Homo sapiens: one gene and its partners. The protein of the gene in region 1 purifies or fractionates together with the protein of each later gene. This does not show direct contact. Each region holds a gene or a part of one and is shown in the gene's direction. Other genes may lie near its edges.

Evidence for each region. Proteins that work in one complex are often made in the same cells at the same time.
Region 2: the proteins of SAMHD1 (region 1) and PLOD2 fractionate together in Homo sapiens (co-fractionation; one large-scale study listed by BioGRID). This does not show direct contact.
Region 3: the proteins of SAMHD1 (region 1) and OAT purify together in Homo sapiens (affinity purification with mass spectrometry, with the first as the bait; one large-scale study listed by BioGRID). This does not show direct contact.
Region 4: the proteins of SAMHD1 (region 1) and ABCF2 purify together in Homo sapiens (affinity purification with mass spectrometry, with the first as the bait; one large-scale study listed by BioGRID). This does not show direct contact.

What each region holds. Positions count from the first base shown.
Region 1 is NC_000020.11:36,948,909-36,953,107, reverse strand, and holds the start of SAMHD1 (deoxynucleoside triphosphate triphosphohydrolase SAMHD1), read left to right. Parts: upstream 1-1,399; 5' UTR 1,400-1,464; coding exon 1,465-1,672; intron 1,673-4,199.
Region 2 is NC_000003.12:146,081,185-146,084,684, reverse strand, and holds part of PLOD2 (procollagen-lysine,2-oxoglutarate 5-dioxygenase 2 isoform 1 precursor), read left to right. Parts: intron 1-2,821; coding exon 2,822-2,947; intron 2,948-3,500. UniProt on the Homo sapiens protein: Forms hydroxylysine residues in -Xaa-Lys-Gly- sequences in collagens. These hydroxylysines serve as sites of attachment for carbohydrate units and are essential for the stability of the intermolecular collagen cross-links.
Region 3 is NC_000010.11:124,412,424-124,415,923, reverse strand, and holds part of OAT (ornithine aminotransferase, mitochondrial isoform 1 precursor), read left to right. Parts: intron 1-851; exon of another isoform or gene 852-971; intron 972-1,491; exon of another isoform or gene 1,492-1,806; intron 1,807-3,500. UniProt on the Homo sapiens protein: Catalyzes the reversible interconversion of L-ornithine and 2-oxoglutarate to L-glutamate semialdehyde and L-glutamate.
Region 4 is NC_000007.14:151,217,206-151,220,705, reverse strand, and holds part of ABCF2 (ATP-binding cassette sub-family F member 2), read left to right. Parts: intron 1-1,546; coding exon 1,547-1,642; intron 1,643-1,832; coding exon 1,833-1,952; intron 1,953-2,055; coding exon 2,056-2,145; intron 2,146-2,514; coding exon 2,515-2,625; intron 2,626-3,500. Other genes in the region: ABCF2-H2BK1 (ABCF2-H2B protein), read left to right, coding at 1,547-1,642, 1,833-1,952, 2,056-2,145, 2,515-2,625.

The sequences.
Region 1 (4,199 bases):
TGAGGTCAGGAGTTCAAGACCAGCCTGGCCAACATGGTGAAATCCTGTCTCTACTAAAAATACAAAAATTAGCCAGGTGTGGTGGCAGGCGCCTGTAGTCCCAGCTACTTGGGAGTCTGAGGCATGAGAATCACTTGAACCTGGGAGGCAGAGGTTGCAGTGAGCTGAGATCACGCCACTGCACTCCAGCTTGGGAAACAGAGCAAGACTCCGTCTCAAAAAAAAAAAAGAAGACCTGCGGCAAATTACTTTTTCCTACATCCTAAGGTAATTGTGATAATTAAGTGAAGTAATATGTGTAGAGCCCTTAGAACTTTACAATATTTGTAAAACCCTTAGAAGTTATAAAAATTATTTAATATTTAAATAATTTAATGAATGTACTTAATTCATTTAGTATTATGTATAAATATAAAATTATTTTATATTTGTAAAGCCCTTAGAACCGTGCCTGGCACACAGTAAAGCTCTGTTTGCAAATAATATTTTGGCTCACCAGTAGACCACTAGTTCATACTGCTTGATGATAAGCTATTCCGCCTCATTCGTCCTTGACCCCCTAAACAGGTCTATGCCTTGGTTGCTGGGAAGGTGTGTTGGCTTTATTAACAGTAATAGTGATATGTCCTTTTACCAGGCAATTGCATGGACCAGTATTTATAGGGAAGTTTGAGCCCTGCCGCAGAGGGGTTAAGTGATGGGAAAATGCCTGCCATTTTCACATGCTGTTACAACCAGGCAGTAAAAGTCCTCAGAAGTTAAATTTTAAGTAATCAGACTGGCCACTTTCCTTCCTCTGGGAATGCAGTTGGGATGGAGGGCTCTGTCTCTAGTTGGAAAGAAGTCTGAAGTCCCCTCCTGTGTGGACACCAGACAACAGGTATCCCAGGGCCCTCTAGTTGACCAGCAATACTGTGGAATGAAGACACCCTCAAGTCACATTTGAAATCATTCCGGGTTCTTCCAGTTCAGCACCTTGACTGTTTTCCTCTTCACTGGGAAGGTGCTGGCAGCCTGACGGCCTTTTAGGCTTCTTTTAAGTTTGGGGCATCTGAAACCCGGCCAAGGTGCGGCGGGTAGTGTACTCATTCGAAGGAGAATACCCCCAATTCACTAGACGAGCCCCTAATTGGGGGTGCGGTGCCGGGCGCGCTCTTTCCTCCCCCTTTCCACCAGCACTGCCCTCAGTTCTGCTTCTAGCCACGCCCTTTCGCGTTCACGTCCAGCGCCCTGGCGGGATTGATTTGAGGACGACTGGACTGCCATTGCGCCTGCGCAGGGAGCCCAAGGCAAGAGCCGCTAGGCTGCCCTGCCCGAAGGGCTCAACTGTCAGTGAGCCTGCGCAGGAGGCCAATAGGCTGCCAATACTCCTTGGACTCCCCGCCAGGGCCCTGCTGTCAGTGCGCCTGCGCGCGGGTCCGGCGCCGAGGTTCTTGACTGCTGTGCCGGACGCCAGGTGTAGCCATGCAGCGAGCCGATTCCGAGCAGCCCTCCAAGCGTCCCCGTTGCGATGACAGCCCGAGAACCCCCTCAAACACCCCTTCCGCAGAGGCAGACTGGTCCCCGGGCCTGGAACTCCATCCCGACTACAAGACATGGGGTCCGGAGCAGGTGTGCTCCTTCCTCAGGCGCGGTGGCTTTGAAGAGCCGGTGCTGCTGAAGAACATCCGAGGTAGCGGCTCCGGAGGGGCTGAGGGGCGAAGGGCGGCGACCTGGGGCGCGGGCCAGGCGCCCTGAGGGAGGGGGCCCCACGAGAGGACCGAGGCCGAGGAGCGAGCCCTGCGGCGGGAGGCACCCGGGAGGGCGGACCTGCGCTGGGGGCGCCGAGGAAAGGAAGACCCGAGGCGGGGGAGGGAGCCCTGCGGCGGGGGTTCCCAGGAGGGCCTGCGGCATGGGGCTCCCGGGACTGACTCCCCGAGGCGGAGGAAGAAGACATGGGGTCGCCTGGGATAGGCGATTCGTAGGATGGGAGCAGGCTCCCGGGATTGAGGACCTGGGAGGGGCAGTCGTAGATTGGGATCTCACTCTCGTGGGTTTCTTCACTAACTTGCCACCCCGGCGCGGGACAAGCGAGACTCGGGTCCCTTTTTTTTAGTTAGAAGGAGATTTTTCCCCAGACCTTGGTGGGCGGCTTGCTGTCATCCAGGCTCGCGGGACCCCTCCGCGCTAACCGCAGCTCCTTGAACACTTGCCACATCAGAGGATGTTCTGGGGCTTTTAGGTTTCGGTTTCCTCCCTGAATTGAGGCTTTTCCTGAAGGGGAAGGAACTGGCTTGGTTAATCTCTGAATTCCCATCACCTTCCTTGGCATCCCAGCAGCGCCCGATAGGCGTGTGTTGACTGCACTTGCAGAACATGGTAAGGAACATGTTTTGCTCTTTAAAAGCAGGTTCCCCTCCAAAATCTGAACCTTGGGGTTGTTCAGTTGACCACTGAATCCCCAGCATGCCACAGTTTGGCCACATCCCCTGGAGAAGTGTTTAGGTTGAGTTTTAATCATATTTTACTGATTCGTATCCAAGCATCCATCCTTGTGAATTCTACTCAACTTTTTGTGGTGGGTGTGAGATTTGACTCCTGCCTTATATCCTCTAGGTGTCCAATAGGAAGGTGATTCTTTGGTGGTTGGGATTTGCAAATTTAGTAAATTTTTGCATTTGTTAGGTGGGGCCCTGTTTGGCTAGGTTGGAAACTGGGGTAGGAGGAACATTAGTGGTTCAGGACCCAAAGATAGCTTGAATGGGTATGGGAAATTGCATTTCTCCTTTTTTTTTTTTCTTCCCCCTTTTGCCCTTTCGTTTCCCTCCACTGCTGGGATGGATTATTACTTTATTTTCTTTGACTAGCAACAAGTGGAGTGAAGTAGTTCCATATTTTCTGTCTCAAAATGTGGTTGGCTCTCTGTTTCAGTGGTTTGTAGATTAACTCGTTACCCTCCAGAATGATGTGTGTTCCTTAAACCTACAACCTATTGCTATCAAAGACACTATGTGCTTTCATTTGGTAAAAACTGACCAACTGTTCCCAATTGCTCATGTCTTAGCTTCTGCTTTGTCTTGACCAAACTTTATTCGGACTTCTCTCTTCCCTTATGGGCCCCTCAACTCTTGCTTACCCCCAGATCTGACCAGGCAGGCACTAAAGCAGTGGAATATGCCTCCCTCTGGTCAGTTTCTTTTGAGAACCGGCTGACCACAGTAGGATGCTGTCCTGTTGGGCTACACTGCTCATTTTCCCTTGCTCGTCCAGGTTCCTATCCAAAGATTCTGCTTATTTCTGCTTGCCCGTCCTTTATCATATAAAAGAAGACCCTTTTTCTGTTGGATTCTTTTTTTTTTTTTTTTTTTTTTTTGAGACAGAGTCTCGCTCTGTCGCCAGGCTGGAGTGCAGTGGCGCCATCTCGGCCCAGTGCAACCTCTAACTGCCTGGTTCAAGCTATTCTCCTGCCTCAGCCTCCCGAGTAGCTGGGATTACAGGCATGTGCCACCACGCCCAGCTAATTTTTTTGTATTTTTAGTAGAGATGGGGTTTCACCATGTTGGCCAGGATGGTCTCCATCTCCTGAACTCGTGATCCGCCTGCCTCAGCCTCCCAAAGTGCTGGGATTACAGGCGTGAGCCACCGCGCCCGGCCTCATTTTTTTTTTTTTTTTAATTAGAGACAGGGTTTTGCCATGTTGGCCAGGCTGGTCTCAAACTCTTGGCTTCGAGTGACCATCCACCCACCTCGGCCTCCTAAAGTGCTGGGATTACAAGTGTGAGCCACCATGCCCAACCTCTGTTTGGTTCTTGGGCCTCTGTTTGATTATTTTTTAAAATTTATTTTATTATTTTATTTTTTTTCTGAGATGGAGTCTCGCTCTGTCACGCAGGCTGAAGTGCACCGGCACAATCTCAGCTCACTGCAACCTCTGCCTCTCGGGTTCAAGTGGTTCTCCTGCCTCAGCCTCCCTAGTTGCTGGGATTACAGGTGCACGCCACCACGCCTGGCTAATTTTGTGTTTTTAGTAAAGACAGGGTTTCACCATGTTGGCCAGGCTGGTCTCCAACTCCTGTCCTCAGGTGATGCATCCGCCTCTGCCTCCCAAAGTGCTGGGATTACAGGCGTGAGCCACCGCGCCCGGCCGGCCTATGTGTTTGATTCCTGAGCCTCTTGCAGATATCTGATATTGGAGCTTTCTCCCTGTAGAAATAGTCTTT
Region 2 (3,500 bases), on another chromosome or scaffold:
AACTCAATTGAAATGGGAAAAAGACACCATGTATATCAGCTTACAATGATACTAAGTTTGTTTGTCAATACTACTGCTAATACTAATAATACCATTTTTACTACTCCTGCTAAGACCTCACCTTTAACAAGTGCTTATTAAGTGCCAGGTATTGTTGTAAGTACATGTATTAACACAATTATTTCTCATAATAAATAGAATGTTTAGCGGGTGAAATGTTAGAATGATTGTTTTTATTTTGTTAAGTAAGATACATGGGAAATGTAGTATGCTTTATTAACCCACCCTATATATAATATCTATCTATATATATATATCACTAGAATTTGTAAATTTGAGAATTTAGTTCTTACTTCAAAAATCTAAGACCTCTCTGTAGCAACCTGTATATACAGCCCAACTGTATAGCTGTGTTATAGATACTCAGTATCTAAGTTAACTATCTATATACATCGTAGGTAATTTTCCAAAGCATATGAATGAGGTTTTGATCATTTGGCAAGGAAAAGCAGTTGTGACACCCTAGAGATATGAAATAGTGTATGATTTGTAACTCTTAAAACCTAGTTTAATTCAGTACTATTTTCTTGAATTTGCATTGTTTTCTCTTAATTTGATTGAAATGCTATAGTGTGTAATGCCCATATGCTTTTTAATAATTAGATATTTTCATTTTATGACTATAATTTATATATTTATTAATTATTCTCTTAGTGAACTATTTAATGAATTTACACTATGTATTTGACATATATCCCTCTTAATATTAAACATTTTAAATCTTCTAAAAGAAAAAAAATTCCCGGCCGGGTGTGGTGGCTCACGCCTGTAATCCCAGCACTTTGGGAGGCCAAGGTGGGTGGATCACGAGGTCAGGAGATCGAGATCATCCTGGCTAACACAGTGAAACGCCATCTCTACTAAAAATACAAAAAATTAGCCGGGCGTGGTAGCGGGCACCTGTAGTCCCAGCTACTCGGGAAGCTGAGGCAGGAGAATGGTGTGAACCCAGGAGGTGGAGCTGGCAGTGAGCCAAGATTGCGCCACTGCACTCTAGCCTGGGCGACACAGCGAGACTCCGTCTCAAAAAAAAAAAAAAAAAAAAAAGAAAAAGACTTACCTGCCATCTGGGGCCCTTGCCCCTTAAAGAGTAAAACTCAGGCTGTGTCTCCATGGAATTCTGTTAGTTAATCAAAGGTTTAGGTTTATGTAATACCTATGGTTCTTGCTTCTGTATCTAGACATGTGGTTTCTATAGTCTATTGACATATGCCAGGAATGTTGCAAGATTTAGTAGATTGGACTGAAGAGTAGAGAAAGAGATTTGACACATCTTGGGCATGTGGCTTTCTACCTTCTCATCAGCTCTCTTTTTTCCTCTTCTCTCCCTATCTCTATTTGCTCCCTTGCTCTAAATTTTACTCCTTAAATTGTATAATAATATGAATCATTCCTCAGCTGCCATCCTTACATTTTTATTCACAAAAACATTGAGGTATACAGCAGATGAATTTTGGTTTCCCAAATTTGTTGGTTTAAACCTTTTCAGGAGGCAGCTGGGATTATAAATTACAAGTTCTTTTTAAATTAAATGTTTGATATTCATATTGAATTATTTCCCAAATTAATGTATGTAGATTCTAATTCATGTTATTATTTCCAGTATTGTAGGTATTCAAAACAAAACAAAACATGTGTTTCTGATTAATAGTTTAGTAGGAATTCGGAAGAATAAACCAAAATTTATTATTTTGCATGATGTGTATTTATTTTTATTTATTTATTTTTTTGAGATGGAGTCTTGCTCTGTCGCCCAGGCTGGAGTGCAGTGGCATGATCTTGGCTCACTGCAACCTCCGCCTCCCGGGTTCAAGCGATTCTCCTGTGTCAGCCTCTTGATTAGCTGGGATTATAGGTGCGTGCCACCATGCCTGGCTAACTTTTTTTGGTATTATTAGTAGAGATGGGATTTCACCATGTTGGTCAGGCTGGTCTCAAACTCCTGACCTTGTGATCCGCCCGCCTCGGCTTCCCAAAGTGCTGGGATTACAGGCATGAGCCACTGCGCCGGGCCCGATGTGTGTTTATTTATTTCACTTTTGTGCATGTAATAGAAAGGGCCCGGCTGGTCTTCACAAGATAGAGGTGAAATAGGTTTTCTTTTTTCATATAAAGAATAGTTGTTCCATAAATTTGCTTTCTAAAATAGTTAAAGGAAAGTTCAGTGTTGCCAGGACTAGCTTACTGTAATCACAAGTCATTTTTTAAAGTCATGGAAAACTGGAAACATACTTAAGTAATTTGAGACTTAATTACAGGAAAGCTTTGCCTGTTTACAAACATCTCAGTTCATCTTCATTCATTTTTTACAAATTCAACAAATATTCATTGAATATCTTAAATGCACCAGGGGCTGTTGTTCACCCAGTGACAATGAAAATATTTGGTTTCATTTAATATAGGTTCCGAAATACTTTAGTTAAACTTAAATATAATTAAATAACTAAAGTAGTTTCCCTCTGTTGGATGTAAGCAAGGCATTTTTAAAAGTCATTTTTATGTATTCATTAGCATTTTCAATTACTTTTTCCTTCTTTGTTACTCTTTTTAAGAAATATGATTGAAAATTAGCAATATACTTACTTAAGAAAAGATGTTGGGAAAGAAGATCCTTATTTTATTTTTATTAACTACAGGTTTGTTGAATGAGCTTTCTTGTGTTATATGTCATACTAAGCCCAAAATACATAATTCTGTGGTAATTTAAAAATAAATAATTATATAGGTTTCTCTCTCTCACACACACTCTCTCTGTCTTTAGAAAGATCATTGCTCCTCTTGTAACTCGTCATGGAAAGCTGTGGTCCAATTTCTGGGGAGCATTGAGTCCTGATGGATACTATGCACGATCTGAAGATTATGTGGATATTGTTCAAGGGAATAGAGTGTAAGTTACTTGGTTTAATATTTTAATGTGAAATACCATAATCTAAAGATGTAGTCTTGTTAGTATTACTTGAAATTTTTTTTGCATTCATCTCTTTTCTTTATAGTTAATGGGAATTTGAGAACCCAAGACCACTTGGAATCCTGAAATACTAGTATAAAACTAATATCTTAAAAAAATGTTTTTAAAGTCCCAAATCTTCAAAGGAACAAGCTCATTGCTGTGGGGAATACTAAGAGATAATATATGTTTACCATACTCACATTATGGTTGATAGAAGAGTAATACTCTTTATTTAAAAGCTTGGAAAGGGGATTTAGTTTACTAACTTTTTAATGGTTATAATTAAGGGTTGTTTTGATAGGTTTTAAAATTTATAATTAAGCCAACAGTAACACTAACAGCCAGAACATTCCAGTATTCCTGATTGCATGAGTTTTTTTGTGTGAAATAGCTATTATTCTGCTTTAAATACAAGTTTTTTTTACCAATATTAGATTTTCACTTCTAGAGATTGAAAAGAATATATTTGCTGAAAAGTGTGTGCATGATT
Region 3 (3,500 bases), on another chromosome or scaffold:
AAAAATAAATCATGGCACTGTTGATTCTGATATTTCAGAAACTGGCTAGTTTTAAGGGCAAAAGGGAACTGAGTGGCCATTTTGTGCTGGATTTGGCACAGTAACATTAACCCATTTCATCCTCAGTGACACTTCAACCTCCTTTTACAAATGGGGAGACTGAAGCTCAGAAAGATTGACAGAATCACCCAGAGTTACTCTTCAGAACCACAGACAGAATTTAAAATCCCGGTCTCCAAACTCGGGATTTTCCGCTTGATTCTCCCGGTTTTGAAACCTTTTTGGAAGAGGCTGTTATTGATGTTGGCTATTTTTAAGTCCATCTTAATTCTGCTCTAAGATTTCTCATACAGTGCCAAGCACAGTAACTTGAACACAGAAGGTTCTTTAATAGAAATGCGTTTACAGGATTTTGATACATCATGGCTCATCCAGTTTCTGACCTTTCCCAGTTGAATTAAATATCCAGAATTCATCTTAAAAACCTTAAGAATAGCTGACTCAGGGGTGTGTGCCTGTAGTCCCACCTCTTCCTGAGGCTGAGGCAGAAGGATCCCTTGAGCCCAGGTGTTCGAGGCCAACCTGGGCAACATAGCTGAGACTCCATCTGTAAGTGAAAAGAAACAAAAACCTTAAGAATGAGTATTAGTAATGTTTTGAATGATATTATTTTGTCCCCAGTTATTCTTTAATAAAACTGCCTAAACTTAACAGGTAAATGAATTTTTCATCCCATTTCTGTTGGAAATTAGCTGTGCAGATAACTTTTATATAAAATAAGAATGTTGAATTTAGATAATCTCTGATATTCCTTTTTTTTTTTTTTTTTTTTTTTTTTTTTTTTTTTTTAGCGCTTTGTAGCCCAGGCTGGAGTGCTGGTGGCACAGATCGTGGCTCACTGCAGCCCAGAACTCAGGGCTCAAGAGATCTTTCCACCTTAGTCTTAGTCTCCTAAGTACCAGATACTACAGGTACGCATCGCCACACCTGGCTAATATTCATATTTTTTATAGAGATGGGGTCTCCCTATGTTGCCCAGGTTGATCTTTAACTCCTGGGCTCAAGTGATCTGCCTTGGCCTCCCAAAGCGCTGGGATTATAGGCGTGAGCCACCTTGCCTGGCCCTAGAAAGTTGTTACGGTTTAGAGCACCACTAAGTATTGCCTGAGTGTTTTACTGCTAATTTGATAGGCAAAAATTAATGTTCTAATTTTTTAGTTGATCAAACAATTTATTCATACTGAGTAAAGCATAAAGAGTCCAAGAAAGAAATCATACATGAGTGTTTTAGACTTAGCAGTAGTATTTTGGGGAAGTTACATATAGTACAGTTAGACATTTTTGCTAGCAGCTACCTCCAGTTGGATGATTCTTACATCACTTTTGTTTTGATTGTTGGTACCCACCCCTTTGAGATAAAGTCTGATGAAAGTTATGGACCTTCTTCTTGGAAAAATATACGTCTGCATGTAATTCTGCATTTTATTTCAGGAGATTTTGGACTCTCTGCAGACTGTCCCTGGATCTTGGGTTAAAAATCTGTATTCTAGACTGAACCGTGGGAAGAAAAAATAGTCAGTGAGTCTTTGGCAAACCGGAGTACTGGATTTTGTTTAGCAATTGCAAATTCCTGAACATACTGGATTTACTGGGTAGTGCCAAGTTTAAAGGGAAGTAAGCCAAACTCCAAGTATTATGTTTTGCTAATTTGGCAGCTCGAATCAAGAGTGGCTGTGAGATTATACATGGTTTGACTTGTCATTGGTAGACTTCTGTTGAAACATGAATTAACTAGTCTTTTAGAAAGTAAGTATAGATGGAATAAGTATGCCTAGTTTTTGGCAACTTTCTCCTAATCATGAATTTATCTTTAAGCTTTTTTTTTTTTTTTCCTTCCAGAGGTGATTCCTATGCACATGCTCTAATTTCCTTTTAATTATTAGTTTCTTTCATAGCTTAGTTTTTACTTCATGGCTTATCAGGATGCTTAATGGTAAATTGGGTACAAAGAGGTGTGTGAAGCCTTGTGGAGGGGCTAGTTTTAGGGCTGGGGGTGACTGGGGAGAGTAGCTATGGCTCTGACTTATGTGATGGGGCGGCAGGGTAAACACCAGCCTGCTCAGTGATGTTTAGACTTTAACACTCATACAAGTAACGGATTGTAGTTTGTAGTTTGACTCTCTCTAGTTTCTCAGTTACCTTTTGCTAACAATAGCTTTTTCGTTTGTTTGTTTGTTTTTTGAGACGGAGTTTCACTCTTGTTGCTCAGGCTGGAGTGCAATGCGCAGTCTTGGCTCACTGCAGCCTCGTCCTCCCAAGTTCAAGCGATTCTCCTGCCTTAGCCTCCTGAGTCGCTGGGATTACAGGCATGCACCACCACGCCTGGCTAATTTTGTATTTTCAGTAGAGACGGGGTTTCTCCATGTTGGTCAGGCTGGTCTCGAACTCCCGATTCAGGTGATCGCCTGCCTCTGCCACCCAAAGTGCTGGGATTATAGGCATGAGTCACCGCACCTGGTCAACAATATCTTTTATGCTACAATTTTTCAGGATAAGTTTTGTAGAAACAACCATCCTAGCAGAATAGATTGTTTTGTTTGGGAATCTCATATATGTGTGTGTGTGTGTGTGTGTGTGTGTGTGTGTGTGTGTGTGTATGTATTTATGTATGTATGTATATGTTGGTCTAATTCAACTTGCTGTGAACACTTTAAAGCTATTATAAGTTAACATTTTTTTCCTAGTCTTTTTGCCTTTCACCTTTGTTTATGATAAATTTGACCTACAGAAGTTTTAGATATTTGTGGCTAAATAAAAGATTTTAGGCTGGGCACAGTGGCTCACACCTTTAATTCGAAAACTTTGGGAGGCCGTGGTGGGCGGACTGCTTGAGCCCAGAGGGATGGACAGTTCCTCTGTCTCCTGCCCCATGCCTAGTCTCTGGCAGTCTTCTCTGATTTGGTCTCCCTGCCTCTGGTCTCTGCCCTACAGTTGTAGCTGTCTCATAGCATTGTGCCTGATGGTATCGGACTGTGGTAGGTGCTTAACAAATACTTAGTGTTTAGCAGGTACTCAGTCAACACACAGTGCATTAGCTCTGGAAAGAGTCTTACTCTTATTGATTGGTTGGTTGATTGATTGCCTGATTGACAGGGTATCACTCTGTTGCCCAGGCTGGCCTCAAACTCTTGGGCTCAAGTGATCCTCCCGCCTCAGCCTCCTGAGCAGCTGGGGGCTACAGGCACAAACCACCACACCTGACTCAAGATTCTCACTCTTTTTTTTTCTTTTATAGAGACTATGTTGCCTAGGCTGGTCTTTAACTCCTCGGCTCAAGCGATCCTCCCATCTTGGCCTCCCAAGGTGCTGGAATTACAGATGTGAGCTATCACGCCTGGCCATTTTTTTTTTCTTGAGACTGGGCCTTTCTTTGTCTCCCAGGTTGGAGTACAGTGGCACAATCTCAGCTCACTGCAGCCTCAACTTCCGGGCTCAAGCAA
Region 4 (3,500 bases), on another chromosome or scaffold:
TCCCTCTGCCTTCTTGAATGCCTTCTTAATTCTGCTTCACTGGAGTCTACACATTTACCCCACCTCCCATGACCACAGGAGAATGGGGGTCAGGATCTCAATAGCCCACTGTTGTGCCTTGCCTTTTCATTTTATATTTCAAAAAGCATGTAAGAAACTAACGATTGATGTCCTCTTCATTCATAGTCATAGGAGTATTAGTTTATAATATAGCCTTCCAGAAACTTCATGTATACTTGCACACATTTGTAGAAAATGTCATGTATACGTAATCTTTTTCTTTTTATACAATTGCAGCTTTTTTTTTTTTTTTTTTTTGAGCTGGAGTCTTGCTCCGTCGCCAGGCTGGAGTGCAGTGGCGCGATCTGGGCTCACTGCAACCTCCACCTCCCAGGTTCAAGGGACTCTCCTGCCTCGGCTTCCTGAGTAGCTGGGACTACAGGCGCATGCCACCACACCCAGCTAATTTTTGTATTTTTAGTAGAGATGGGGTTCACCATATTGGCCAGGATGGTCTCCCTCTCTTGACCTCATGATCCGCCTGCCTCGGCCTCCCAAAGTGCTGGGATTACAGGCGTGAGCCACCGCACCCGGCCTCTTTTTTCTCGAGATGGGGTCTGTCTCTGTCACCCAGGCTGGAGTCCAGTGGCGTGATATTGGCTCACTGCAACTTCTGCCTCCCAGGTTCAAGCGATCCTCCCACCTCACCCTCCCAAGTAGCTGAGACCACAGGCACATGCCACCATACCCAGCTAATTTTTATATTTTTAGTAGAGACGGGGTTTCGCCATGTTGGCTAGGCTGCTGTCAAACTCCTGGCCTCAAGTGATCCACCCACCTCAGCCTCCCAAAGTGCTGGAATTACAGGTGTGAGCCACTGCACCTGGCCACAGTTACAATTTTAATAATCATTCTGTAGGTTGCTTTTTTAAATTTAGTATATTTTGGACTGCTTTCCATGTGAGTATATATAAATCAATCACAATCTTTTCAGTCACTGCATAGTATTTCGTTATGTGTTTATCCTGTAACTTGTTAGGCCCTTTCTGGTGGATATTTAGCTTGAGTCCAGTTTTTGTTTGCAGATAGAAACCATGGTAGTCCACTTATGCAGGGTTTGTCAGCTTCTAAATCTGAATGGTCTGTTTTCCCCTCTGGAGACAGCTCTTGCAGTCTTTTGTGGGGCTTCAGCCTCTAGGGAACGGGGAAGGAATAGGAGGTGGTATTGGAAGGCTCTGAGCCTCGTGACGTCCGTATGACCGTGATTTTCAGGACTATTCCCAGTGCCACAGGTGTCTTTCTAGCTAACCTAAGGATTTGCGCTGGAGCCTGGCCCTGGCTGGGCTGAGCGAGGGGCATAGAATTGAAAAGACTCCGATTTGATGTTAGGATATGCTTCTGTAATGCACGTCCTCTCTTCTTACTGCACAGCCTTAGAGCCAGGGCCAAGTTAGTGCCATCCCTCATCCCCCTAAACTCTGAGTGAGAATCCAGGATTGAAACCCAGGTTAAAGCTGCCTGCCTTACCTGGCACATTTCCATGCAGGGTAATTATGATCAGTACGTGAAGACGCGGCTAGAGCTGGAGGAGAACCAGATGAAGAGGTTTCACTGGGAGCAAGATCAGATTGCACACATGAAGGTAGGGAGACTGCAGAGTCAGGCTCATGGCCTCCTGTCTGAAAGAAGCAGGGGGCTCGGATGAGGGCATTTCGAGAAGCGGTAGTGATGGAGGATGTCGGGAAGAAGTTACGATCAACATTTTTACCCTGGATTGAAGATGAATTGTTGAGCGCCTGCACATACTCCAAGCTCTCTTTGGTCTTTTTTAGAACTACATTGCGAGGTTTGGTCATGGCAGTGCCAAGCTGGCCCGGCAGGCCCAGAGCAAGGAGAAGACGCTACAGAAAATGATGGCATCAGGACTGACAGAGAGGGTCGTGAGCGATAAGGTGGGGTGTGATTGGGTGGGGTGTGATTGGGTGGGGTTGGGTGGCCTAAGGTGAGGTGGATAAGAAAGGAGCCAACTTGATAAATGCCCTCTTTTCTTCCTAGACACTGTCATTTTATTTCCCACCATGTGGCAAGATCCCTCCACCTGTCATTATGGTGCAAAATGTGAGCTTCAAGTATACAAAAGATGGGGTAAGTTCAGGGCAGGGCATGGGTGGCTGGGGTGTATCTTAGGGTGAGTGGCAGCTCATGGGAGTTGCTCCTGTTCTGTGCTGACCACACCTGCTAGCCCACGTGCTCTGGGGGATTTTCAGGTGTGGCAGCTGGGGTGCCTCATCCAAGGCTGCTCGCGGGCCTTTCTTCGTGTATATGGAAAGAAGACTACTCAGCTGGGTTGGTGGGCGGAGGCAGTGGGCGAGGCGGGGTCTGCTATGAGTGCTTCCTCCCGCTACTCTCCCTTCCTCCTCTCTTGGTGACTGGGAATTCAGCGGGCTTGGTCTGCTGGTCATAGCAGATCTGTATTCTAGCCTTGTGTCCACATCTCTCTCATCCCCACCTCAGCCTTGCATCTACAATAATCTAGAATTTGGAATTGACCTTGACACACGAGTGGCTCTGGTAGGGCCCAATGGAGCAGGGAAGTCAACTCTTCTGAAGCTGCTAACTGGAGAGGTATGGTGCCAAGGTGGGCGTGGATCCCTCTAAGATTAGGCCTTGCGATGGTTAAGGAAGAGGGGAGTGATGCAGGGGCTACTACTTTGGGAGGGCCTGAGTACCCTGGTGGTGAGTGAGCCATCTGGAGGGGTGGAGCAGCAGCCAGGAGAGGGGGAATGTCTGGTTGGACAGTGCTGAGGCTGGGGGCTGTTTTCCTGGGACAGGGATAGGTAGGGAGGAGTCTTAGAGTGTGTGTGTGAATACATGTATGTGTTTAAGCACGTTTCTATTTTCTTTTTTTTTTTTTGAGGTGGAGTCTCGCTCTGTTGCCCAGGCTGGAGTGCAATGTGCGATCTCAGCTCACCGCAACCTTCATCCCCCGAGTTCAAGCAATTCTCCTGCCTCAGCCTCCCAAGTAGCTGGGATTACAGGCACACGCCACAGCTAATTTTTTTGTATTTTAGTAGAGATGGGGTTTCACCATGTTCATTAGGCTGGTCTTGAACTCCTGACCTCATGATCTGCCCACCTCGGCCTCCCAAAGTGCTGGGATTACAGGCGTGAGCCACCGCGTCTGGCCCATGTTTCTATTTTCAATCAGAGCATTTAGAATATAGGAACATCTGTGCATTTAGGGATGCTGCAGGTTCTCAAGTAATGTCATTTCATTAATATTGATGAAAAATAGAAATGATTCCCAGCTGGGGCCACTGTCTTTGTGGAGTTTGCACTTTCCCTTTAACGTCTACATGGGTTTTCTCTGGTACTTCAGTTTCTTCCCAATTCCAAAGCTGCACCTGTCAGGTTACTTGGAACGTCTCAGTGGTTCCAGTCTGAATGAGTGCGGGTGTGTGAGTGCATCCTATAATGGAATGGTGTCCTCTTCAGGGCTG